Linked DNA regions of Homo sapiens. The protein of the gene in region 1 purifies or fractionates together with the protein of each later gene. This does not show direct contact. Each region holds a gene or a part of one and is shown in the gene's direction. Other genes may lie near its edges. The genes, in order: TRMT13 and OSER1.

The links.
Region 2: the proteins of TRMT13 (region 1) and OSER1 purify together in Homo sapiens (affinity purification with mass spectrometry; 2 studies listed by BioGRID and IntAct, with this or other methods). This does not show direct contact.

What each region holds. Positions count from the first base shown.
Region 1 is NC_000001.11:100,142,904-100,146,827, forward strand, and holds part of TRMT13 (tRNA:m(4)X modification enzyme TRM13 homolog), read left to right. Parts: intron 1-233; coding exon 234-306; exon of another isoform or gene 307-311; intron 312-1,165; coding exon 1,166-1,240; intron 1,241-3,623; coding exon of another isoform or gene 3,624-3,769; exon of another isoform or gene 3,770-3,924. UniProt on the Homo sapiens protein: tRNA methylase which 2'-O-methylates cytidine(4) in tRNA(Pro) and tRNA(Gly)(GCC), and adenosine(4) in tRNA(His).
Region 2 is NC_000020.11:44,196,935-44,200,858, reverse strand, and holds part of OSER1 (oxidative stress-responsive serine-rich protein 1), read left to right. Parts: intron 1-3,119; coding exon 3,120-3,807; 3' UTR 3,808-3,924.

The sequences.
Region 1 (3,924 bases):
ATTGGGAATTTTTAGGGTTAAAGGAAATAATGTCTATGTAATAATTGATAAACATTTTCAAATCTTTTTTAAAAAGTGTGATATTTTGAAGTTCTCATCAAAGAATGTACAATCTTAATTTTTAAATATGTTCTGTTGCTCTGAATTTTGAAAACCAATAAAAATCTTTTTATTTTCATAAAGCTTTTTTAAATGTAAGAAGTGATTATTACAATAATGTTCTGTTTGTGCAGGTGGATGGAAAACACAGAAAGAAAAATTCAGTGTTTGAAAGACTTCAAATTGATATTCAACACTTGTGTTTGAGTAAGTTGTGTAACTTTCCATTGGTCTACAAATAAATCATAACTGTTTTAAACTCTGAGGTTGCTTAGAAATCCAATCATGCAGAACTGTGCTTCAGGGAAAACAGTCAAATCAATTCATTGTTAATATAGAATGTTTTATATAATGTTTTTAAATAGATGTAAATTGAATTAAGGTTGAGAATTTTAAAAATTTTCAGTATCAAGTGGAAATGAAGTGTTATATTAGGGAAGAGTTTAAAAGTTTTATAATATGTACTTCTGTTGTTTCTTTGTCCTGTTTAAATTAATTTTGAGTCTGTTCAAACTATAAACTAGCCTTCTGCCTGCAGTTAACGTGACTTTACCTAAACCATGAAAGAAAATGAGATATTTCTCTGCCTAGCTAATGTGTAAAAGATACTTCCTAGAATTTTAAATTGTACAAAAGAAGTCATCACTGTGGGATTCATATTCCATACACAAAACACACACAGACACATACACACACAAACTCCTCAATCAACCTCTGTAGTGCCCTTTTTATACCTTTTCTATTTTTCAGATTATCCAAAGAAAATAATGCAAACATATCTTTGCAACCTCTTCCATTCACCAATTTTAATCCAGCCATGAAAAGCAACCCAGCATTTGTATAGAAATCAATGTATTTAAAATTATTTAGCTGAATATATTAACTTTCTGATGTTATGAACCCTAAACAAGTTCTTATGTTATATGTTGGGTTCCATAAAGTGATAATTTTTGTTTGAGTCTCTTTCAGGCTAAAATTCAGAGACTCTAATTAGTTCTTTCTTTTGGAAGGCCACATTAATATGTACTTTATTTCACTAGACAGTTAATTCTCATTTCCATTTCAGACAAGATTCCTGTGCTAAGAGAAGAAAAACTACCTGTGGTAGGAATTGGAAAGCATCTGTGTGGTATGGCAACAGGTACGTAAACATACTGATAATGTTTACATTAATGCATTAAGTTTTGGCCTAACCTGGCCCCAACCATTTCAGTGGTCTCTTTTGAATAGATATCTTATGTTTACAACTCAATAATCTTTATAGAGCACTGGCCCTGTGCTTTATTAGATGCATAGCTTTCCTATTTATCTGCTCATATTGGCCATTTTGCAGGATGAATTAAGAGTTTTGTATGTAAATACTGCATCACATTAGACCTTAAAGTTCTTTGGGTTAAATTTCAACCAGAAAAGGAAAATAAGACCATTTATGGAAACTGTATGATTCCACCTAGAAGCTACTGATTTTTTAGAGTAGTTGCTTAGAAAGAACTCAGAAACCTCTTCTACTAAAAGACTATTGTGTTTCAGGATTCTGGGGAAAAAGAAAAAAATAAATGTTAGACAAAAAAAAAAAATCTAAGATGTCTTGTCTTAGCACTTTGATCCATCAGATCTAGCATGGTAAAGTGGAAACAGCATGTGCTTTAGAATCAGATAGTCTAGCCTTCAGCTTTGTTGTGTAACCTTGTCAAATTACTTAACCTTTCTGAGCTTTGGTTACCTCATCTATAAAACAGAGATACTAATATATTAATAATTTACCGGGTTGCATGTAAAGTGTCTGGCACATAATAGTGCTCAATAAATGTTAATTATTGTTACATCATCTTCCTAACTTTTGCTAGTTTCATCATCTACCCATATGGATTACTTGGAGCATCCATAGATATTATTCATATTGGCTGGAAATGGCATTGAGTACTATATATTTGTGTTGGCCTTCATAGTTTTTAAGACTATAGTCATGTACAACATAACGATGATTTGGTCAACAATGGACTCATATATGACAGTGGTCCTATAAAATTATACCATATTTTTACTGTACCTTTTTTGTATTTAGATACACAAATACCATTGTGTTACAGTTGCCTACAGTATTCAGTAACATGCTGTACAGGTTTGTAGCTTAGGAGCAATAGGCTGTGCCATACACCCTAGGTGTGTAGTAGGCTACACTACACCATCTAGGTTTGTGTAGTACACTCTGATGTTCCTACAATGATGAAATCGCCTAATGCATTTCCCAAAACATACACCAATAGTTAAGCAATGCATGACTGTACTTTTGCATACCTTATCTCATTTAAGCCTCATAAAAGTCTTCTAAAGTAAACCAGTTCCATCCCGGGGGTAGGAGGGAGTACACTCTTTTGACCTACAGTGGCCATTTCTCATGTTCCACATAATTTTTTCCCTTGATTCACTGTATCTGAATCCTCCTTTTGTCTCTGCTGCAGTTGCTTACCCTTTTTGAAATTCCATTTTCTTCTCTTTTGCGATACTCTTATTTCCTGGTTCTTCCCCTACATCTATGCCATTCTTCTGTTTATTTCACAGTCTCCTTCCACTTCTGTCCTTAAAATACTAATATTCAGGCCAGGCACAGTGGCTTATGCCTGGAAACCCAACACTGGAGGCTGAGGTGAGATGATTGCTTGAGGCTAGGAGTTCAGGATTAGCTTGGGCACATAGGAAGACCCCATCTCTACAGAAATTTGTTGGGCACGATAGCTTGTGCATGTAGTCCCAGCTATTCAGGAGGCTGAGGTGGGAGGATCACTTGAGCCTAAGAGTCTGAGTCTGCAGTCAACTGGGATAGCACCACTGCACTGCAGCCTGGGTGACAGAGCAAGACCCTATCTCAATCGGTCAATCAATCTCAGACCCATCTGCTACACAACTAATGTGTCTTTCCCTTTAAACTCTTCGGTACTTCCTGATATAGTCCAAACTCTTTGACATAACGTTTTAGTCTCAATCTGGCTTCAGCCTTCCTCTCTTTACATTCCCTGTCTCCTACTTTGCTGTTCAGCAACATCAAACCCTGTGTGCTTTTCCATAGACTGTACTATTTCTACTATATCTGGAATTTCACCCCCATTCACCTACTCACCCAAACAAAACAACTGGTCAATTTTTACTCATCCTTCACCTCAGTTGTCACCACTCTCAGGGAGCTCCCTTAAATAAGATATGCCTCCTTGGTGTTATCATAATACCCTCTGCATATTTTTACCTTGTGGTATTTTAATTATCTGTTTATATATCTAATTCTTCCACCATGCTCTGAATTTTTTGAGTATATGGTATATACTTAGTACGATGCTTGCTATATAACAGGAACACAGTGAATATTTGAATGAATGAATAATCTTGGCTACCAATTTGCTGTGTTTCCTTGTCCCTTTCTGCATATGTGGCTTTGTCTTTTAAGTTCTTTATAAAAGATGAATTGAGATAAATTGCTAAAGCTCCTTCTAATTCTGAAATAACTTAATTCTTTTTTTTTTTTCTTCGAGACGGAGTCTCGCTCTGTCGCCCAGACTGGAGTGCAGTGGCGCAATCTCGGCTCACTGCAACCTCCGCCTCCCGGCTTCAAGCGATTCTCCTGCCTCAGCCTCCCGAATTGCTGGGACTACAGACTCGTGCCACCACGCCCGGCTAATTTTTGTATTTTTAGTAGAGACGGGATTTCACCGTGTTAGCCAGGAAGGTCTCCATCTCCTGACCTCGTGATCTGCCCACCTCAGCCGGCGTGAGCTACTGCGCCTGGCCTGAAATAACTTAATTCTTTTAATAATTTATCTGGTTATTCACATT
Region 2 (3,924 bases), on another chromosome or scaffold:
ATCCAATTGTTATTAATTTGGAAATAATCTTTCTAGTCTCTGGCTGCTTTTAAGATCTTCCTGTTGTCTTTGCTATTCTATAGTTTTGCTACAGAGTGTCTCTTATGTGGATTTCTTTTTATCCTGCTCCAGTGTATTTCCTGTGTTCATAGATTCTCTTATCAATTCAGAAAATTTCTTGGTCATTATGTCTATAAAAATCACTTGTCCTCTGTTCTCTGTATTCGTTTCTTCAGAAATTCCAGACTTACTCTGTCATCTCTCTTAACTTTTACATTTTTTCCAAATCCTTGTCTCTGTACTGCCTTTTAGGTCAGAGGTTGACAAACTTTTTTTGTAAAGCACCGTATGGTAAATTTTTTAGCCGTTGGAGGCCAAGAAGCAAAAATTCAAGGATATTAATAAGTGCTTAAATAAGAGAGAAAACTCCTACTCTACCCTGTTTGCCTGGGGTTGGCCGTCCTGGCTGGTGGACACATTCTGTCTTCAGTTGCTGAGACAGTCGCAGGATAGAGTGACTAGCCTGAAAGGAGAACCTTGTGGAATGGGTGGGTAGCAGGTAGTGCCAGGGTCAGTTCTACTTTCTGTCCCAGTGAGGCTCAGATCTCAGCATGCTCTTTTCTCCTCCAGAGATCCCAGCATTGGTTGGAGTCTTGAACTGAGATTCTGCCTCTCAATGATCAGCAGTTGCCAACAGTAGAGACCCAACATGTAGATGTTAGCTAGTGCGGGCGCTGGACAGTGGTGCAGCTTGTCTACTGGCCAGGAAGGCGGGCAGGGAGAATAGGGACAGGGGAGGATCCCCTAGCCTGGTCTGTGGCTCACAGTGCTAGCCCACTGGAGCAGTGTCCACAAGCTGTACAAAAACAGGCAGGGAGCCAGATCTGACCCACAGGCTGTAATTTGCTGGCCCCTGTTACAAATAATTCAGATTTATTTTCCCGTCAGTCATTCTTTCTTTAGCTGTGTGTACAAGTCCCCTCTTATCCATAGGGGATATGTTCCAAGAACCCCAGTGGACGCCTGAAACTGCAGACAATATCAAACCCATTTGCCATCAGTCAGAGCACGTTTTTGTTCATGTCTTCCACCCACACATTTAATGCCTTTTCCATCTTAACTAAGGACTTACATGCACTGTGGCTGTAACTTTCACATTTGAAGTGCAACAGCAAGTCTATCACAAATTTGTTTTTCCTTCTTCACAATTTTTCACATAGGAGATTCGTTCTTACCGTAGATCTTAGCAACCTCAGTATACGATTTATTTTTTTCCTTTCCTTATTAAGTCAAGAACTTTCACCTTTTTACTTAAAGAAAGCTGTCTTAGTTCATTTTCTGTTGCTGTAACTGAATACCTGAGACTGGGTAATTTTTAAAGAGACTTATTTCTTACATTTCGGGAGGCTGGGAAGTGTAAGAGCATGGCACCAGCATCTAGTGAGTGTATCATTGCTGCATCATAACATGGGGAAGGATATCACGTGGCAAGGGGGCTCGTGAGAAGTAGCCAAACCGGCTTTTATAACAGAGCCGTTCTTGTGATAACTATCCCTGTCCCTCAATAACCCTTTAATTCATTAATCTGTGGATGGATTAATCCATTCTTGAAGGCAGAGTCCTTTTGTGACCCAATCACCCCCAAAGGTCTCAGCACTGATGCATTCGGGACCAAGTTGACAACACATGAACTTTTGGGTGACACATTCTAACCACAGCAGAAGCACTTCGTGGCTTTTCTTGGTATACCCAAACTGCTAGCATCACTACTGTTATACTGTGGGGCCATTGTTAAGTAAAATAAGAGTTACTTGAACACAAGCACTGCAGTACCATGGTAGTTGATCTAATAACCAAGATGGCTACTAAATGACTAATGGGTAGGTAGCATATACAGTGTGGATACCCTGGACGAAGGGATGATTCACATCCCAGGTGGGACGGAGCAGGATGGTGCAAGATTTTGTCATGCCACTCACAGTGGGGCGCAATGTAAAACTTATGAATTGTTTATTTCTGGAATTTTTTATTTAATATTTTCAGACCATGGTTGACTGCAGGTAACTGAAACTGTAGAAAGCGAAACCATGGATAAGATGGGATTACTGTGTTCTGTTTAGCTTTTTAGTGTCTTGTTTGGTTCTTGTCTCTAATTCACTTAGCAGTTTTGAGTATCTTTTCTTTTCATTCAGTTCTTTATTTAATTTTATTTTATTTTATTTATTTATTTATTTATTTTTGAGACGGAGTCTCGCTCTGTTGCCCAGGCTGGAGTACAGTGGCGTGATCTCAGCTCACTGCAAGCTCTGCCTCCCAGATTCACGCCATTCTCCTGCCTCAGCCTCCCAAGTATCTGGGACTACAGGCGCCCACCACCACGCCCGGCTAATTTTTTGTATTTTTAGTAGAGACGGGGTTTCACCGCTTTAGCCAGGATGGTCTCAATCTCCTGACCTCGTGATCCACCTGCCTCGGCCTCCCAAAGTGCTGGGATTACAGGCGTGAGCCACCGCGCCTGGCTATTTAAATATTTTATAAATAGTTATCTTACATAGTGTGTCCAGTAATTCCCAGTATCTGAAAACCTCAGGGGTTGTAAATATTGTTAGTTTTTTGGTTTTGATTGATTGGCTGTTACCAATGATAGAAATGAATCAGAAATCTATTTAATAGTAATGGCATAATGGTCATTTGTAACGTTAGCCTCACAGTGGTTCTGAAGCTGCTATATTCAGGTTTAGGGCACAATATTTAGGCTTCACAGGATCGGTTTCAGTTGTATGTTTGAGGTGCTTCCCTCAGACCCACTGGTCAAAGGCTCCCAAGCTTAGAGTTGGAACAGGGCAGGTGTTCTGTCCCAAATGTTTGGCCCAGGTGATTCAGTTAAAAAATACCATTATCTCACCTCGTTCTATAGCTTGCTAATAAGATGATGTTGAAGTTGTTGAGACACAAAGACTTAGGCAGCATGAAAATGGAGGAAGGTGCATCTCTTGCAGGAAATTTATGAGCTTAGACTCATAAAGCTGAGGGAAGGTAAATTTCCTACTGTCATAAAGAATCTGTTTAGGACAGCTCCATATCCCAACATCTTCTTGTATATTTTTTTTCCTCTTTAGGTCTACAAGGAAGTCTTCACGAGGAGCAGTGAGAACTCAGCGTCGTCGACGTTCTAAGTCTCCTGTCCTTCATCCTCCAAAGTTTATACATTGCAGTACAATAGCGTCTTCTTCCAGCAGTCAACTCAAGCACAAAAGCCAGACTGACTCACCTGATGGCAGCAGTGGGCTGGGAATTTCATCCCCTAAAGAGTTCAGTGCAGGAGAAAGCTCTACTTCTCTCGATGCTAATCACACAGGGGCAGTCGTTGAGCCTTTGAGAACTTCTGTTCCAAGGCTCCCATCAGAGAGTAAGAAGGAAGACTCCTCTGACGCTACCCAAGTCCCCCAAGCAAGTCTCAAAGCCAGTGATCTCTCTGACTTTCAATCAGTTTCCAAGCTAAACCAGGGCAAGCCATGCACATGCATAGGCAAGGAATGCCAGTGTAAGAGATGGCATGATATGGAAGTGTATTCCTTTTCAGGCCTGCAGAGTGTCCCTCCCTTGGCTCCAGAACGAAGATCCACACTTGAGGACTACTCTCAGTCGCTGCACGCCAGAACTCTGTCTGGCTCTCCCCGATCCTGTTCTGAGCAAGCTCGAGTCTTCGTGGATGATGTGACCATTGAGGACCTGTCAGGCTACATGGAGTATTACTTGTATATTCCCAAGAAAATGTCCCACATGGCAGAAATGATGTACACCTGATAGCAAGAAGCTAATTCATATGCTTTAAACCAATGAAGGCTTGTCAAAGAGATTTAGTTAATGGCAGACCTTGTGGCCACTTTGTGTGAGAAGACATCTCTTTCTGCTCACTGTGCT